2 separate regions of the Homo sapiens genome follow, and region 1 is linked to region 2. Evidence: fine-mapped expression QTL. A gene starts in region 2. The other region holds a variant in brackets. All regions are shown on one strand. Distances are between the middles of the regions.

Region 1 (8,836 bases), 660 kb after region 2:
TACCAGTGGGGCATGGTGGCACACACCTGTAGTCCCAGCTACTGGGGAAGCTGAAGCAGAAGGATGGCTTGAGCCCAGGTGGTCAAGGCTGCAGTGGGCTATGATTGTGCCACTGCACTCCAGCCGGGGTGGCTGACAGAGTGAGACCCTGTCTGAAAAATAAATAAATACATAAATAGGTAGTAAACTATTCATGGGCAGATGGGCAGCTAGCTGCAAGTTTCACTTAGGTGTGGTTCTGTCCCAACAAAAAAACTAGAGTATTTTACAGTAGGGCTAGCATTACACAAATTGAATGTACAACTGTCAAGATTTTTAAAACAGCTCCTAGATGCGTGTGTTATATGTATACAACACATAAGATCACCTGACAGCTCATAAATCGGTTCATAGTGGCGATGTTTTATTTCCGTAAGAGTCAAAACTAGTTGAATAAAAAAAAATTGCCTCCTAATCATAAAAACCAGAGGTTTTTTTTTTTTTTTTTTTTTTGAGGCACAATGCTGGGTCACCACCCTCAAATGGTTCCTTTCTATATTAATTTAATTTCAAAACAACATAAAACCTATGAGCATAGTAATGTTATCAATCTGAAGCATTTCTAGAACTGAAGAAACCATGGATGGCTTCTCAAATAGAGCACCTGCAATGACATCACGACACAGTGTCCACCATGCTGGGGGTTTCACCTGGAACTTTAAAGAAAGTGCTTATGAAGGTAAAGGAAACATTCACCAAAAAACCACTTTGACTCATTCTGAGCCAAATAAAGCTATCTACTCAAGTAAAATTTGAAAACCCAGCTGAAATAAAGCCATAAAAGAAGCTAAAGAATGCTGATCCCTTTTCCGTTTTTTCCCATGACCACAATACTGAGGTGGTCACCTTTGAGCAAGGATCGCCTTCAGAATCATTGCAGAAGGTGGTGGGGGTTGAAGTCAATGTAGGAAATAGGATGCCTTCTACCTTCAATTTAATTCCTTCTTTGAAACGTCCCATCTTCTGGTACCTTCCAATGGCTTTAGATTTTTAAAATTAATTTTGCCTCTTTTTGCAGGAAAAAAATGTAAACTTGCAAAAACTGATAGTGCAGGGAAAGTAGCTCACGTTAAAGCAGATTCTTCAGTTTATAAATATATTTACTATAGAATTTTTTAATAGCTTCATAGATTAATCCACTTGTCTCTGGTTATAAAGACCCAGGGTATAAATATGTTACAATGAGCTATATGAAGTAACTAATATTTAATCATTTTGATCAACAAAAACAGCAATTTCGTATGGTTCAGCCTAATACCAGTGAGGTATCAAGATATCTGATGTAAAATTAAAATAATATTTTTCAATAACACATACAAACAGGAAAGTGAGATTCCATTTTCCCTAATTCAATTTGTATACAACTTTAAACGTCTGTATACAATATTTCCAAAAACCATTAAAAAACACTTAAAATATTACTTATCACTAATTATAACTACAAGCAAGAGAAGTTGAAAATAATGATAAATTAGACCAGCATTCTTATCTAAATAAATATCTCCAGCTTGATGGTCCTTTTTGATACTACTCCAAAACTGAAACTTAAAAATCTAGCAGCTTTTCTTCTTTCTTATGTGTGGTGATGGAAAAAAATTTCTACGTCCTCTGTGGTATCACAGCCCTTTCCCCCATGCCTCCCGCTCTACCTGGTTTTAGAGTTGCATCTCCATCTTGTTCTGGAGAAGCCTCACCAGCCCTCATCACTTCCTCCTCCCCAGAACTAACTGAGGGAGGGAGGGAAATGTGGCCGTTGTGTAGTGGGAGATGGGCTTAGTGACCCAATCTGGAGTTACCCCATTATGCTTGGGGTACCTTGGCTGGGACACCAACAATACAGCACATTTTCACGAGATAGGTGAGCCCCAGGCTTCCCTGGGCTGTAAGAGGGACTTGGGCTGGAGAGTTAGAGAAAACTCTGGGACACCACTTATGTTTGGACAACATCCTCCGGGGCAGGGGAGATTTCAAATGGTGCTCTCCCTGTAGTTTAATAGACACAGACAGATTCTTCCTAGCTGTGCTGTGAGGCAGAGCAGCGTGACTCCCTGACCCCTGCAGAAAGACACGTTGAATCCTGAAGTCACTGAGTGGTAGCTTCAGGCCCTGTAAGCGTATTCTTCCTTGTAAATATGATGAAAATGAGCAATTAGATGTGACCAAACAGAATAGGTATTTATTACTTTTCTTTCACATGATCCCCAAACTGTTGCTGCTGGTGGTGTCTCAGAGCATGGGAAGGACATGGCTGAGACAGCTGAGAAGGGAGAGCTACACCAGGAAGCCCCTTAGCCTGTCGGCAGAGGGCCAAGGTTTCAGCACTGGGTGACCCAACTAGTCCCAGTTTAAAAATCCGAAGTCCCATGTCCTAGGCGCCTGAGCTGGGAGTTCATTTCCTAGAGACAACAGGCCAACCACCTGCCCTTCAATCTCTACCTCTGCCAGAAGCTCCCTGTCACTTGCTATTACAGCCCTGCTATTTGTTGAGGAGAAGTCTGTAAACCACCCATCCATGCACTCAGTAAATACTACAGATGCATCTTCTGTAATAGCTCACAGGTTCCCGGGTTACTGAGACTTGAGTTAGGCCTAGCGATGATTGAGCAAATTCCCCAAAACCCTCAATTTTAGACAAAAAACGAAGAACATGCCTCCCGTAGACACTTCAGCCTGGTATAATGGGTAGCTTCCAGCACAGCCAACTTTAAAGAGTTCTTTTAACTGTGAGAGCCCCAGAAGCAGGTGATTGATAGCCTAAGGATAAGAAAAAACCCTCAACCCTTTACTCACTTTACATGGGGTAAACCAATAGTCAGCAGCTAGCTACAAGAATGGAGCCCAAACCTGAAGACATTTAAAGGCAAAGAAGAACCAATTCTTCAACAAGGTAATTCTTATTGCTATAAAACCACTCCAGCTAATGATCAATTCATTTATACAAAACTTATTTTTTGAACATTTTCCACGGGCCAGGTTATAGGTGAGACGCTATGGACAAAGAACAACAAAACAGACACCGCCCTCTCAACTCCCACTCTCATGACTGTTGCTAAAATCTATTACTCACTTTGCCCTTCCTTTTCTCAAAATCATTTCATAAAATTAGCCCAAGGTCTGAAAGCAATTTCCTAGAACCCCTATTATTGATCTTCTTTCTCTCTTTTGGGAGACTGTATTGGTGTTATTCTAAGAAGCTCTACAGAACAATTATTTGTCTCACTTTGTTGTCCTAGTGAGATTGCTAGGGACTGAACATTTGTGTCCTCCACTCCCAAAATTTCCATAATGAAGCCCCAATCCCCAGTGTAATGGTATTTGGAAGTGGGGTCTTTGGGAGGTAATTAGAGTTGGATTAGGTCATGAGGATGGGGCCTGTATGATGGGATTTACAGCATTATAAAAGAACAGAGACAAACACTCTGCCTCCACCATCCCCCCGACCTGAGTGCCATGTAAGGACAATGACAAGACCATCTACAAACCAGAAAGAGGGCCCTCTCCAGACACGGAATCTGCAGGCACCTTGACTTTGGACTTCCAGCCTCCACAACGGTAAGAAATGGCTTTTGTTTATAAGGCACCTAGTCTATGGCATTTTGTGATAGCAGCCTGAAGTAAGAGACTCAGAAGGTATAGGGAAAAACACCTAAAAAATTAGGACTTGAGGAAACACTTTTGATTGCTAGGGACTATCAAGACTTACTTTCAGATACACCTTTAACAGTGATCAATATGGCAAGCAAAAACAATGCTTGGTACCCTGAGCCTCATCTGACAGACACCTCATAACATCTGAAGTCTGTTTGCAGAAATGAATTAGATCAGCACCATTTGGGAGGTCTCAAAAAGACTAATATCATGAATAGAATGTTAGTGAGGAGGGTGGCACAAAGTGCATGAGGCCAAAGACTTTTGATGACCCTCTATGAATGGCAACCCTTAGGACATCTCTGATGGCTTTATCTTGGTCAGCTATTCAAAGCTTGGTTAAGGTCATAGTTTCCAAAGAACTTTCTCTGCATTACAATCAGGCACAACATATGGGTCCTGCAGCTTAAGTGCCTCACTCACAGGGGACTTATCATCTCCACAAGTCTCACTGTAGCAGTTGGCAAGCCCATATGGGATAATAAATTCAAGGACATTTGTTTATTTTTGTGCTCAAATGCTTAAATAATTTTGTAGGAACAAAGTTTTCAAGGTATCACAGAAATAGCATCCAGACAGAATCACATTCCAAACTCCTTTCTAATGAGATGATTCTTGGGAAATCTGAGGAGCTTTTTCTTGCAAAATTTGCACCTGAAAGTCCTTGAATGGGTGAAATGGGCGTGAATGTGATCTTCAACCAAGGGAGGAATTGAGAACACTGAAGTCATCTGCATAGTCTTTGTGGCAAGGTTGACTGCACTCTAGCAGCTTAGCAAGAGTCCCACCTTTGTGTGAAAGGCAGCAGTTATATCAGAAATTACTTATTCCCCT[G/A]TGCAGAAAGGAATTGAGGGTTGTAACACCAGCCATGCTAAACTGAGTTTAGGCAAGATGTAGCCCTAAAGAACTGACTTCAGCATGCATCCTTCCATAGACCAATCCCATATGATCACTAACTAATAAATGCCCCAATTTGCAGAATTCAGATCGTAGCACCAGCTTTATAATGGAAAAATCCCCCATCAAGAGGCTGATTCTACTTGTGAGATTTAAATCGCTGAACAATGAGTACTAATGGTCTTTTTTATTTTGAAATTGTTTATTGTCAGAGTATAAGCTAGCCGATCTTGACTAATACACCATCATTTTTATTATCCATAATAATTACTATCCATAATAATACCAAGGCAGAAAAATTTTTATTATGATGAATATTGGGGCCACAAGATTGTTAGGACAATACATGCTCCTGTTCAGAACTTTCTATTTCTCTTACTTTGATGCACAGTGAGAGATTTCATCATGAAAATTCCAGAACATATGTTGATTTATGTCTAGCATTTAGAACTAAACATTCCTAAACAAGGCATCTGAAGCACAGCACATGCTTGTGTTTTATAGTGAATTCTATGTGTGTTTTTACCAATAATTCTTGTAGGTGGTTCTCCTTTTTTCCCCTCATTCTCACCAGAGAAGGAATTTTATGGGGATAGTGGTGTGTTTTGTTTCTTTCATTTTATGCAAGGCAAATAATTTTAGAATTTTCAAGCTGAAGAGAACCTGAGATAATCTATTCTAACCCCTAGCTTTGAGGAAGAGGACAGTGAGGTGTAGAGAAATGAAAACAAGCAAGTTCATATAAAATGTTCCTTCATAACAGCTTTCTCTCATTCACTAAAACAAGCATGTACTCAAAGAGGCTAAAATGCCCACAAGTCTAGACTGCCAACCTTTGGCATACTTAACTCAGTATCAAATGACTCATCTCCTTCCTCAGTGGAAAACCTGGGTAAATCTGCTGTATTCGTTTTCTATTGCTCCTGTAATAAAATTCACAAACTAGTGGCTTTAAACAACACAAATATGTCATCTTACAGTTCTGTAGATCAGAAATGCAGCATGGATCTCACCTCTAAAATCAAGATGGGAACAAGGCTTCTTTCCTTTAAGGAGGCTCTAGAGGAATCATCCATTTCATTGTCATTCAAGCTTCTAGAAGCCACCCACATTCCTTGAAGTAATGGGGCCATGAGCCAAGGAATCTCATGGCCCTATTACTTCACCTTTGAAGCCAGCAATATTGAGTCTCCTGCTCCCTTTCATGCTTTGAACTCTCCCTCTCTCTTCTCCTCACTGTTTTACTTGTTCCTGGTTTACCATCACCCCAACCTCTATGTGCCACCCTATCCACCTGCACAATGGAAAAATACCCTTTCAAAGCCACCAATCTTATCAAACAGTCCCCTATTCAAAATCCTTCAGTGATATCCCATTACCCATAATTGTGGTCCTCAAAAAATCTGTGCCTATACCCCTCTAGACAAATCTAGAAAAACTCACCAAAAGTCAATTTTAAGTTATCTTCATTTTTTATCATAAGTTCAAAAGGGTTGTTAAAGATATAATTTCTAGAATGTTCTAAATGTTGACAATTTAAACATAATAGCTGTTAGATATACCTAAATGTATCTAGAATGTAAACACCAAAATTATTTAAAAATAAGCAAGTTCACACTTAACATTTATGTTTTATAATGCCTTTTTTCTATTTCTTTTCTACCTCCCCTGCAAAATTTTATCCTAATGAATACATTTTTGTGGCTAAAAGTATTTTATTGATCTATCATATATCCCTATATACAACAAAATATATACATAATTTAGAATTTTAAGTTTAAATTTACTTTGAATTTAGCCCCTAAGGGTGAAATAATGTATTTTAATTAAGTTATACTAAAGTTTTCACTGGTAGGCAATTGACAAAAACCACATAAATATCATAAATATTAATATAATTTTAGTAATTATTAAATATAAAACTTTACTTGAAATATATCTTTTGATAAAATGGATAGGGCTTTTAAAAAATTAATCCATACATCTATGAATATTACTTAATGCTAAAATAACAAAGTTTTACCATCAATTTTATTCCAGTTTTTCATTTTTCTTCACATAAGTGCTGATAAAATGTTTTTGCCCTAAGAAAAGTTTCAATCTCTGAACTCCTTTTGAGTTTTATGCCACCACAGAAGGTGATCCAAATTCAAAATTATTTTTATTTATTTATTTATTTATTTTTTGAGACAAAGTCTCACTCCTATTGCCCAGGCTGGAGTACAGTGGTGCAATCTCAGCTCACTGCAACCTCCGCCTCCCAGATTCAAGCAATTCTCCTGCCTCAGCCTCCCAAGTAGCTGGGATTACAGGATCCCGCCACCACAGCCAGCTAATGCTTTTGTATTTTTAGTGGAGACGTGGTTTCACCATGTTGGTCAGAATGGTCTCGAACTCCTGACTTCAGGTGATCCACTGGCCTCAGCCTCCCAAAGTGCTGGGATTACAGGCATGAACCACCTGGCCTGGCCAAAATTATTTTTAACGATTTATCAACTGATGATACAAATATGTTTTAAGCACAGTTTTGTTGCAGAACACGGTGTTTTTCTGTTTAGCACTTGGAATGTTTTTATACCATAGGACAATGTACCATATTAATATTTTGGAAAGATGAGATAAGTATCTTCCTTCTACAAAATGAGATGAGGACAGGCAGGTGTTAGGCAGATCAGTTTTAAGAAAGGGTATACGTAAAAGTTTAAAACATGGAAAGTAATCCCTTAAGAATCGCTGAGCCCTTGCATGTATTCCATTAGAATATTTTCATTTAGGCCCAAGTGTATGCCTAAAGTCATCTTGAAAACAAGTAGGATCAAATCAAAACGTCTTTGCATACAACACAATGTCTTTCATGACTTGATGCAAGCTCACTTTCCATTTCCCACCCTTATCCATCTACACCCCTTTTCCAACACTAGCTTGAGAAACTGAATTACTTACATTGGTTCTAAGTTGCTTTCAAGGGGAACATGTGTCAAAATGACTTCCTCCCTTGATTATACTTTGCCCCCAAGCCTACCGCTATTTTAGACACAAGAGATGAGTCACTGAAATTTATACCAGCACCTTGGCCCTGTCTCAGTCCAGTCCCGAGGCTCTGCTTGGTATTCGACACAAATTAACAGCAGTAGTTTAATTAGTTATCATATCTTTAGGATAAAATCTGTAAAACAAACCCAAACCCATTCAACCACATCGTTTATTCCCACACTCCAGGAACACTATTCAGCAATTCCAGCATTTCATATATAGAGACGAGGTTATTTTTATTACTCTGCTCTCCTGCCCCTACTAACATGCTGCTTTTATTTCTATTGGATATATTTTTTCACATTCTGCTTAGTGTCACAATGACCTGTGTATAAATCTGACTTTTTCTGTCTCCATGGGGCCACAGCCATGGGTTCCATCTTCATTTGATTCCTTATTTGATTTCCAAGTTCCAACCACCCCTCCTTGAAAAATCTTTCTTTCTTCGCCACCAGTCCATCATTGTTGCTCCTTATATAATCATTCTTTCTCAGTTTCCTCCATTTGCACTCCCTTTGCCCACTGCTTATCCCAGAAGTTCTTAAACTTTGCATGATACAATACCAGAAGTCACAGCCCCAAAATTGTGGCAGTTATCTTTTCCCAAGTCAGAGGGAAAAAAGCTTCTAACAGTTTCCTCATGTTAGAGTTTCTATTATTTTTCTTAAAAGTTTGCTATTTGACTGTCAGTAATGGCCAGCAAATGACTAAAGTAAACAAACACTAAGGAAAACACAGAAATTACTTATATGTAGTTTAAGGGTTTTGTGTATATGCTCATGGGTTGGAATTTTATGCATAAAGTAAGATCTTATATTTTACTTTGAAAACTGGTGCTTCTTCATATGATATAATAAAATATGTATACATTTCCCTGTTTGTGTGTATGTATATACATTTACATATGTGTGCATAATGTAAATAAATATGCAGTAGATATCAACATAAAATTAAGGTTTTTTTCTATTTGTCTGATAATACATGTAAAAATGGCCTAGTGAAAATACTCAGATACTGCTGGATGGAATGAAAATAGTTCAACCATTTTATAAACCAATTTGGCAGTTTCTTACACATCTGATCATGCGTCTACCACCTCACCCAGCCATTCCATTCTTATTTACCCAAAAGAAATAAAAACATGTTCACACAAATATTTGTACACAAATGTTCATAGGAACCTTACTCTTAACAGCCTGACACTGGAAATATACACATG
Region 2 (8,836 bases):
TCATCAAAAAAATCCCTTGGTTTATAATATTCCATAAATCTTCCTGTATAGAAAGAGATAAAAATATAAGGTTATAACAAGTAGGATAAGTTGACAGATATACTTTTTCAAGTATCATCCATATGTGGATGATAGCACAGAAGCTACTTTAAAACTAAATTGTATTTAATCTTATTAAAATTAAATAAGAAAAGAAGCTAAAATGTGCCTGCAGTAATCTCTCAACTTCAGAAAACGGTTTTTTTTCATATAGAGAGATAAGTTTGAAACATATTCCCTTAAAGGTAAGAAAAAAGCATGATGAGATCAGAGGTGGGGTTTTCTATCTATCTGCGGCAACTTTAATAATATACATTGACCACTTGCTGAGGAAATCATTATACTTAAACCTCCTTACAACTCCCTTCTTTCTACCTTCAGATTTTAGTAAGTTATCCAATGATACTGACATTGTCAAGGTTTATATTTATGTTCTGATTTAAAACTGCCAAACACCAGTGGTTTAGTCTTAGATTTATTTTAAAATAAATATGATTATCATTATCACATTTGACCACAGCTTCATCGTTCATGAGATTTATGTTTTAAATTTATCTCTTAGTTGTATAAATTTGATAATGAAGTAGAATATTATAAAGGTTTTTTTCTGCTGTGTATACTGATTTATTGCATTTGAGAACAATTGACTGTTGCCTTGAAAATCTGAAGAACACCAGTGTAGGAAAATAAACATTCTTAGGTCACCCTTTCTTTCCCTCAGAACACCCTCAGGCATTGCTTGATGAGAGTGAAGAAATCTAAATGCACACTGACTTTCTTTTTCTTATATGTAAATTGCCTTTTCTGTCTGGATATTCAGAACATTATTTGTCTTTGAAGTTCTGTAACTTCAGTAGGATATATTTTAGGGTTAATTGTTCCAGGTTGATTCTTTTTTTTCCCCTGAGACAATTGTGTTCTTTTGTTCTGCTGATCTAACACTCTCTATTTCAGGAAACTAACTTTTGTGTTTCTATTACATCTTTGATTATTTTTTTCTCTTCCATTTTATTCTTTTTTTTTTTAACAGCAAAGGTTGTAAAAAGTGGTATTCTGGTAGATATGTAATAACCAGTTGTCTGAAAACAAACAAACAAACAAAACCCTGATTTGTAGCATTTGTCCATTTGTGTGGGGTAAATACTTCCACAGTGGCTGATTTCAAGCTGTTACTGAAAATGGAGTTAGGAAGCAGTACGTATGCCCAATCAGCTCTTGCAAGCTGGTGCAAGCCAGCTCCTGCATGTTACTGGTTGTACATGTGTTGGATCTCCTTTGTTTGTATTTCATAAAAATGGTCTATGATTTGTTTTATACTTATTTGTTAGTAGCTAAGTACTTGTCTATTTATCACTGTGTTTTCAGTGGTTAGTCTGTTTTTTTTTCCTATTCTCTCTTTCTTTCTTTCCTTCTTTCTTTCTTTTTTTTTTTTTTTTTTTTGTAAGACGGAGTCTCCCTCTGTTGCGCCCAGGCTGGAGTGCAGTGGTGCAATCTCGGCTGCAACCTTTGCCTCCCGGGTTCAAGTGATTCTTCTGCCTCAGCCTTCTGAGTAGCTGGGATTACAGGCGCCCACCACCACGCCCGGCTAATTTTTTTGTATTTGTAGTAGAAATGGGTTTCACCATGTTGGCCAAGCTGGTCTTGAACTCCTGACCTCAGTGATCCGCCCACCTTGGCCTCCCAAAGTGCTGAGATTATAGGCGTGAGCCACCACGCCTGGCCCTTAGTCTCTTACCTTTTGAGTGGTTTAATGGCTTTTATTTTTCCCTGAACTCTGCTAGTTTATCTTTCATTTTAGTCTTATTGTCTGTCTTTAAATCCTTATATTTCTTTATGGTGCTTTTAAAAAACATTATTCAGATTATATTGCCTTTCATTCCATTGAAACTCGGGAAAAAATATTTGTCCGAACTTTTTTTTCTGTTTCCTTGGGGGAATTCTTTAGAGACCTATTCTTTATATGCTTTTGTTTATGTTCCTTGGAACATTCTTTTCCACCTCCTATTCTTTCCCTACCTCCACTATCTGAGCAAATGTCCTGCTTCATTTCTAGAATCTATGCTGGTTCCCTTATGGTTGCGGTTCATCTTTCAAGAATTCCAGCCATTTGTAGATGCATAGCCTGGAGAAGGTAAAGAGAATGAGCTGGGTAGTCTGAACCTGGGTTCCAGCATGCTGTCTTACACATCCCTGTCAGCCAATCTACCAAGTTCTCCACCCCTCAGGTTCATCTTGTCACAGTTTTTGGTGTCAACAAGGTTGGTTGACATTAGTTTCTCATGAAATCTTGACTAGTCAGTAGCTCTGTTTTATTGAAAAACACACTTCTATTTACTATCAAACACTTATTCCTACCCCATTACAAATTACAAATACAGATTTTGACAGAGAAAATTATGTCTTAAATGGTAGACAATAAATACATGCCTGCTCAATAAATCATAATTAAACTAGTCATATAAAAAATGCATACAGCCAGATACCTAAATAGATAGTATACTCTCAATGGCTGATTACAGGTTATTTTCCAACTTTTAAATCTTTGAGCCAGAGAGAAAGTCTATTACTTATTCAAAAATAAAGTTTTAAAATCTGTCTGACAAATCAGTAGAGTTCTACTTTGTGTGTTCAAAAGTGCTGTATTCAATAAATACATCAATGTGGTGGACAAAGGAATGTTTTGCCTAAATTCCCCTTAAGTGAAGGATTTGTTACTGCAGCCACAGGGACTACAGCTGACAGAGGCCTTTAGCTGTTGTTACCTGTAAGAATTGCCAGAGCTGCCTGTCTTAAGTTCGTGCCCCTCCTAGGAACAGCCCATGCTCAATGATTGATGTGGATGTAAAGGACTGACTATCTCAGACCAACTCATGGTCATTCTGAAGGATCACCCTAGCTAGTGAGCTCCATAAGGGGCTGACAAAGGCTGCAATTGGCTTGCATCACAGCTTAGCTTCTACCTCTGCCTGCTCCTGCTTCCTGTATCCCTCCCACCCACAGATGTTGGTCCTTAGTCAAATACTGCAGGCTAAACCCTCAAGAAATGGCATTACATATAAAGAAAACCCTTAGGAATTCATGCAATGCAGTATTTACAGAAATAGCATTATTATTCATCTATAATTTTTACCTTGCACGCTTCCAAAATAAATTTGAGGCAGCTAACAATCATCATCATATTTAACTAGCAGAAACAAATGTACAAACACAAACTTTATGTATAACAGGAAGGCTATTTTAAGTGATTAAAGTTCAATATTTCAAATAAAAATTTTAACTGATACTAACCAATGACAAATAAACGATATCTCAGTAAAAATATGTTCTGGCTTTTGCATCTATGTGAGCACACATATAAGAAAGTCAAAAGTAGAAAATATTTATGCATATAGTTGTGGGGGTGACGATGGTGGCAGTGGGTAGGTTGTTAGGGCTGTGTGCAGCTTTGAGAAGGAAGAGATGAGTATGATACACAAGGACATGGGACTACTGAGGGAGAAAAGTAATCATCCATTTATCCTGTGGTTTCTGTTTTGATATGGCCAGTACAATATTAAAGGTACTAAGTGAATGGAAAACAAGCAAGGGGAAATGATAACTACTATACTATTAGCTAGAAAACTGTCTAAGGTCATTGAGTATAATAAGGAACGGAGAGATACAAATCCTTATTTTGTAACCTGCTATCTAGTTATGGGATCAGATTCCATATCCACTACTAGCTCATAAGGGTACTCTTGTGGCAGCTGAAGACAGACAAGAGCGTGGCTTCTTCATTTCCAAGGGTGAAAACTCAGGACTACTTCGTGAATGTCTTTCATTCACTAGAGTCTTGATAATGCTGGAGACTTCAAGAGTCTGGGAGGGCAGTAGGCAACTGGGAAGTTTAAGTTGAACCACAAATATCGTTGCAAACTTCAGCCCAAACATCACTGAACACAAAGGCCTGACATCTCTTGGTACAAAAATGCGCTCTATGTTTGTCATAATCTGTCGGCTTTCTTAACTAGGCAAGCCCAAGCTTGCTATTAGATGTACAATAAACACTTTGATGCCCAGTCTGAGTTTTTGTCCCAGCTCAGGAAAGGCAAGGGGACAGCCAAGGCAGACTGGTTCAGACTTGACCGGGGCAGCTCATCCAGCAACTGGCTTACTAGCCAGCTAGCAAAGTGAGCATGAAAAGGTCCAGGAATCCTTCTTCCCCTGGGCCTTAAATTCGAAATCAGACAGCAGCCAAGGAGAAGCTGGGTGGTCACAGCCTAGCCCCACAAACACTCCTTCCAGGTAAGGCTCAGCAACCCCAGGCTGGAGGAGTCTCTGTGGACACCAGAGACCATTGCTAGGCTGGCGGATTGAAGGATGGCCACTGAGAGGTCACAGATAAGGGGTTCTCTAGATGTTTGCTACTCGGAGTGGTGGGAGGGCCAGCAGCAGCAGCATCACCTGCGAGGTTGTTAGGCTTGCAGAATCTCAGGACCCAGCCAATTGAATCTGAATCTGCATTTTAATTCACAGGCACATGAAAGTTTGAGAATCACCGGTCCAGGTGGTGGCAAAGAGGCCAGCCCACTGTTCTGCTTCTCAGCCCCTCCTCCTCCCCACCTCTGCTAGCCTCTTAAGCAAAACTCAATCCTGCAATGGTCCTGAACAACATTTCTGCAAATCCCGAGTGTTGGGGGAGAGGGCGTGCAGGAGCTGCCCCCGCCGGGGACGACTGGGAGTAAACGTGATTGGATTGGTCGCCTGCTCCAGCTCCCGGCTCCTGGCTCCTGCACCCTGAGTGTAGACACGCCCCCCGACCCTCCCCCTCACCTCCACCCCCGGCCGCCGCTACAGCCTGCCTCCCGCCGGCTGCCACGAAAACCCGGAGCAGCTGCGTACGCTCATGGACAGTCCTCCGAGGGGCGAAGCCGGGCAGCTGGGCATGCTCAGTAGCTGGGGGAGGTTTGGGTGGAGAGTAGAAAGCTGTGGCTCTGCCTCTCACCCCCTCCCGCTGGCCCCCGCCCCCCTTGCCCCTACCCAGCCAGTAGTAGTTCCCCAGCGTGCGCCCGGGGAGACCGGGAACATGGCGCTGGGAGCGCTGTAGCAGCTGAGAAGGGGCTGAGGCACCGCCGCTTCGCTGACAGCCGGCCACCAGGTAGGCAGGCGCGCCTGTCGGGACTGCCTGGGTGGGTATCGGCGAGAGGAGAGGCGCCTGCGGGGATGCGCGCCGCTGGTAACCGGAGCATCTCTCTTTGCCGGGAGAGGATGCGAAGAGGACCACTGTGACAGCGCGATCCTGCATCTCCTAGGAGATGCAAAGGCTAGGGACCTGCTGCCTGGAGGGTAGGGATAGGGGACCGCCCACCCTCAACCCATGCGCTACTATCCAGCCTGGGCTCTCTACCAACCAAATAAAGGATGGTTCCATTTTGCTGGGCGGGAGGGCGTGGAGGAGAACCCCGGATTCCAGCCCTGAGAGCGTGCTGGTACCCCGAACTGCTCGCAAGCCCAGCACCAGTTCTTTGTGTGTATACAGCAGCGCACGCCCTGGGGGTGCCACGGCGCTGCTTTTCCCGAGAAGTGTTGGACATATTGCCAGAGCAGGATTCCCGCATGGTTTTTGTCTTTTGGCAGGTGTGGACTGGAGGATGCAATAGCTGAGCCTTTATGAGGCTGTGTTTTCCTTTGTTATTTGTGTGTGTGTGTGTGTGCGCGCGTGTGTGTGTGCGCGCGCGCCTGGTGGGTTGTAATGGAGAGACAGAGAGAGAACTTCTGCTTGTGGGCACCCTTGTGAGCAGGGCGTGGAAGAGGATCTTGGTTCCAAACTCTTGTCAAAATTGTGTGCCATGTCAGCCTCCTAGAGGGTAAACTTGAGAAGTCCAGGGATCATCACTGCTCAGTTTGGAGGATAAGCGCGATCGCCCTTCTTGAAACCATGTGTGTGTATATGGAGCTTTCAACTCGGGCTGAGTTAATTTGTCAACATTAGATATCAATTAAGGGAACCTGAAACGCTGAGGCTATTTATGGTGGTCTTTTTATGGCCAGAATAATAAACAAAAAGAAAAGTTGGCACAAAGCCAGAGGAAAGTGTCATTGTTAATAGTTGATGACAGCTTGAAAGACTGAACACACTTTTAGGAAAATCAGGAAACCTGGCATTCTACGGAGTTCTACCAAGACATAGCCACAGGGTCTTAGGTAACTCACAAAAATCTTCTAGTGCAACCGCTTCTCTTCTGGGGCTTGGAGGCTGTAGACACTCTTTCTCTTACCTGATATAGATGGACAAGATGCTTTTTAGAAGTCCCTCCTACACTAGAATTCTATGAAATTGACACCTTATAATAACAGCTGTGCCACCTTAGATTTGTGTATCTGTTATATTCAACAGCACAACAACTCAATCTTGGGGAGAAAGATAACCAGGTTAGTTAGGGAGAAAGGTAAATTTAAAGCATGGGTTTATTTTTTGCTTTATAATTTAAAGGATGGGCATCTTAGCATATGAAGTTTGGAGACAGTTTCCTCTGCACTCACACTATTTATTTTTATAGTCTTGTTAGGTGGCGAGAATGAGTCAGTATCATCAAAATGAAGTGGGGGAATACATAAGGAAAATGCATTTAAGTAAATTAAAGCCATAAATGTCCAATCTGATAATACCTTGACTTGGAATACATATGTGCAAGGCAGATGCACTGCTAAATGGAAGCAATATAAGCCAATGGCAAGTTCCTTGGTAACGCTGGCCTTAGACTAAAAACCTAGTGTTCTTCTGTGAGTGGGTAGAGATTGTACTAGGTCTCTGCAGCTTGTTATTTTATTAATAAATGTGAGTTTAATTGAAAATTGATATCTAAGCATTGAATCAATTGATATCTAAGCATTGAAAATCTAGTCTGGCAGTGCCTCTCCACTCTGTCAGGACCTGCTGAAATGCTGTAGGTATGGGAGGCAGGTGTTTGAACTCTGACTCTTCTATGTTTAGCTTTGTGATTCTGGGAAAATTATTTAACTTTCCTAAGCCTCAGTTTCCTCACTTATAGAACAGTCCTCGGAATAGTAAGACTTATCTAGATGAGTAGATGTACGGATTAATCATAATTTAAACCACCAGGAAAATGGTGGTGACTGTTATGAGTAAGAGGGAAATGGATATTTACTGAACCTATGCTATGTGCCCTATATAATGATTCAGGCTCAAACATGTTAATTCCCTTAAATTTCCCAACTATATTAGTTTCCTAGGGCAGTTATAACAAGTTACCAAAAACTGGGTGGCTTAAAACCACAGAAATTTATTCTCTCATGGTTCTGGAGGCTAGAGGTCCAAAATCAAGATGTTGTCAGGGCCATGCACCCTCCAAAACCTCTAAGGGAGGATCCTTGCTTGCCTTTTCCAGCTTCTGGTAGCCCCAGGCATTCCCTGGTTTGTGGCAGCATAACTCCAATCTCTGCCTCTGTATTCACATGGCATCTTCCTCTCTGTCTCTGTCCCTGTGTCCAAATTTCCCTTTTCTTATACGGACATCATTCATATTGGATTTAGGACCTGTTCCTTATTCAATATGACCTCAAATTAACCAGGTTACATTTGCAAATGCCTGATTTCTAAACGTCATATTCACAGGTTCTGGATGGGCATGAATTCTTGGGAGACACTCTTCAGCCCAGTACACCAACATCCCTATGAACTGTGTTTGATGACAACATTAACATTATGTTAGCATAAGAGGTAAAGATAGAGTAGCATGGATTCAGAAAATACTTTAAAGATTATTTAAGGGAACTAACCTATTTGAGGCTTTATATACACAACCATGGTAGGGAAGAGCAGGGTTCAAAAGTACCTCATTTATGCATGTCACTTACCTGGGAGCCAAGACAACCCAGGACCTGGATCTTCTAGAGTATCTCAAACATACTGTGCCCCCAGTTGATTTGTTGATGTTGCCTTCCATCCTTCTTGCTAACCTTCCAAACAAATGCAAAAAAACCAAAATGCATTAAATAACAAAAACAATAATAGCAACAAAGGCAAGCTAACAACTTTCTAGTCCTTCTTAACCTGGTAAATGGCACCACTATCCATCGAGTTGCTTTAACCAGAAACCCAAGAATCACCTTTGACACCTCCTTTCCCTTGACCCTCCACATTTAAAACCATCATGCAGTCTTATAAATGCTATTTTCTCTATAGATCTCTAAATACATCTTGATAAATTATTTCTATCCCCACCACCACCACTATCAAACTGCAAGAGATGATAATCTCTTACCTGGACCACTAGAATAACTTCCTAACAAGACCCCTGGTTCCTTGCCTGGCTCTTCTAATCCTTCATCCAGAGCAGAGAGGATAATGTCAGTTCCCTACATAAAATACCACCCACACACCTGGGACAGATTCCAGAGACTCCTAGAGCCTCTGATACTTGGCCAGCCTCATCTTGTGCATCTCTTCCTCTTGATGCTGTCACACTGACCCTCTGTCTGTTTCTGGAACATCCCCAACCATCTTCCCTCTATATTTTACCAGTCTGGGTCATACTCATCCCTTGGGCTTCCTTGATCTCTCTTCCCCACCGACCCAACTCTCTCATCATCCTTTCACTTTTATTCCACAGCACTTATTCCAGTTTGCAAATGCCTGTTTGTTTGGCTATGTCTGTAAGCTCTATAATGGCCATTTATTTTATGTCTTATATGCAGAAGGTGCTCAATGAACTTTTGGTGAATGAGTGAAGGAACGAATACTCTGCCTCATAGCATTTTCCTGTGCCAACTTCAAGATCTGATTTTTAGAAGGTTT

Alleles and levels. Alleles are on the strand shown, and positions count from the first base shown. SD is a standard deviation of normalised expression in the study named.
In carriers of allele A in region 1, the expression in nucleus accumbens of the gene that starts at base 4,862 in region 2 tends to be higher than with G alone (moderate effect, 0.65 SD a copy in GTEx).

The links.
Region 1: its variant is fine-mapped to the expression of PAK5 in nucleus accumbens (GTEx, PIP above 0.99).

What each region holds. Positions count from the first base shown.
Region 1 is chr20:9,176,256-9,185,091 of GRCh38, reverse strand. The region is part of intron 2 of PLCB4 (phospholipase C beta 4); the gene reads right to left. Among named protein-coding and RNA genes, the nearest start is that of PLCB4, 110 kb to the right of the region's middle. RefSeq lists an enhancer at 4,247-4,862. The variant G/A (reference allele first, on the strand shown) is at 4,522.
Region 2 is chr20:9,835,102-9,843,937 of GRCh38, reverse strand. It overlaps PAK5 (p21 (RAC1) activated kinase 5), which reads left to right and starts at 4,862. Exons shown (of 10, transcript NM_177990.4): 1 at 4,862-5,176.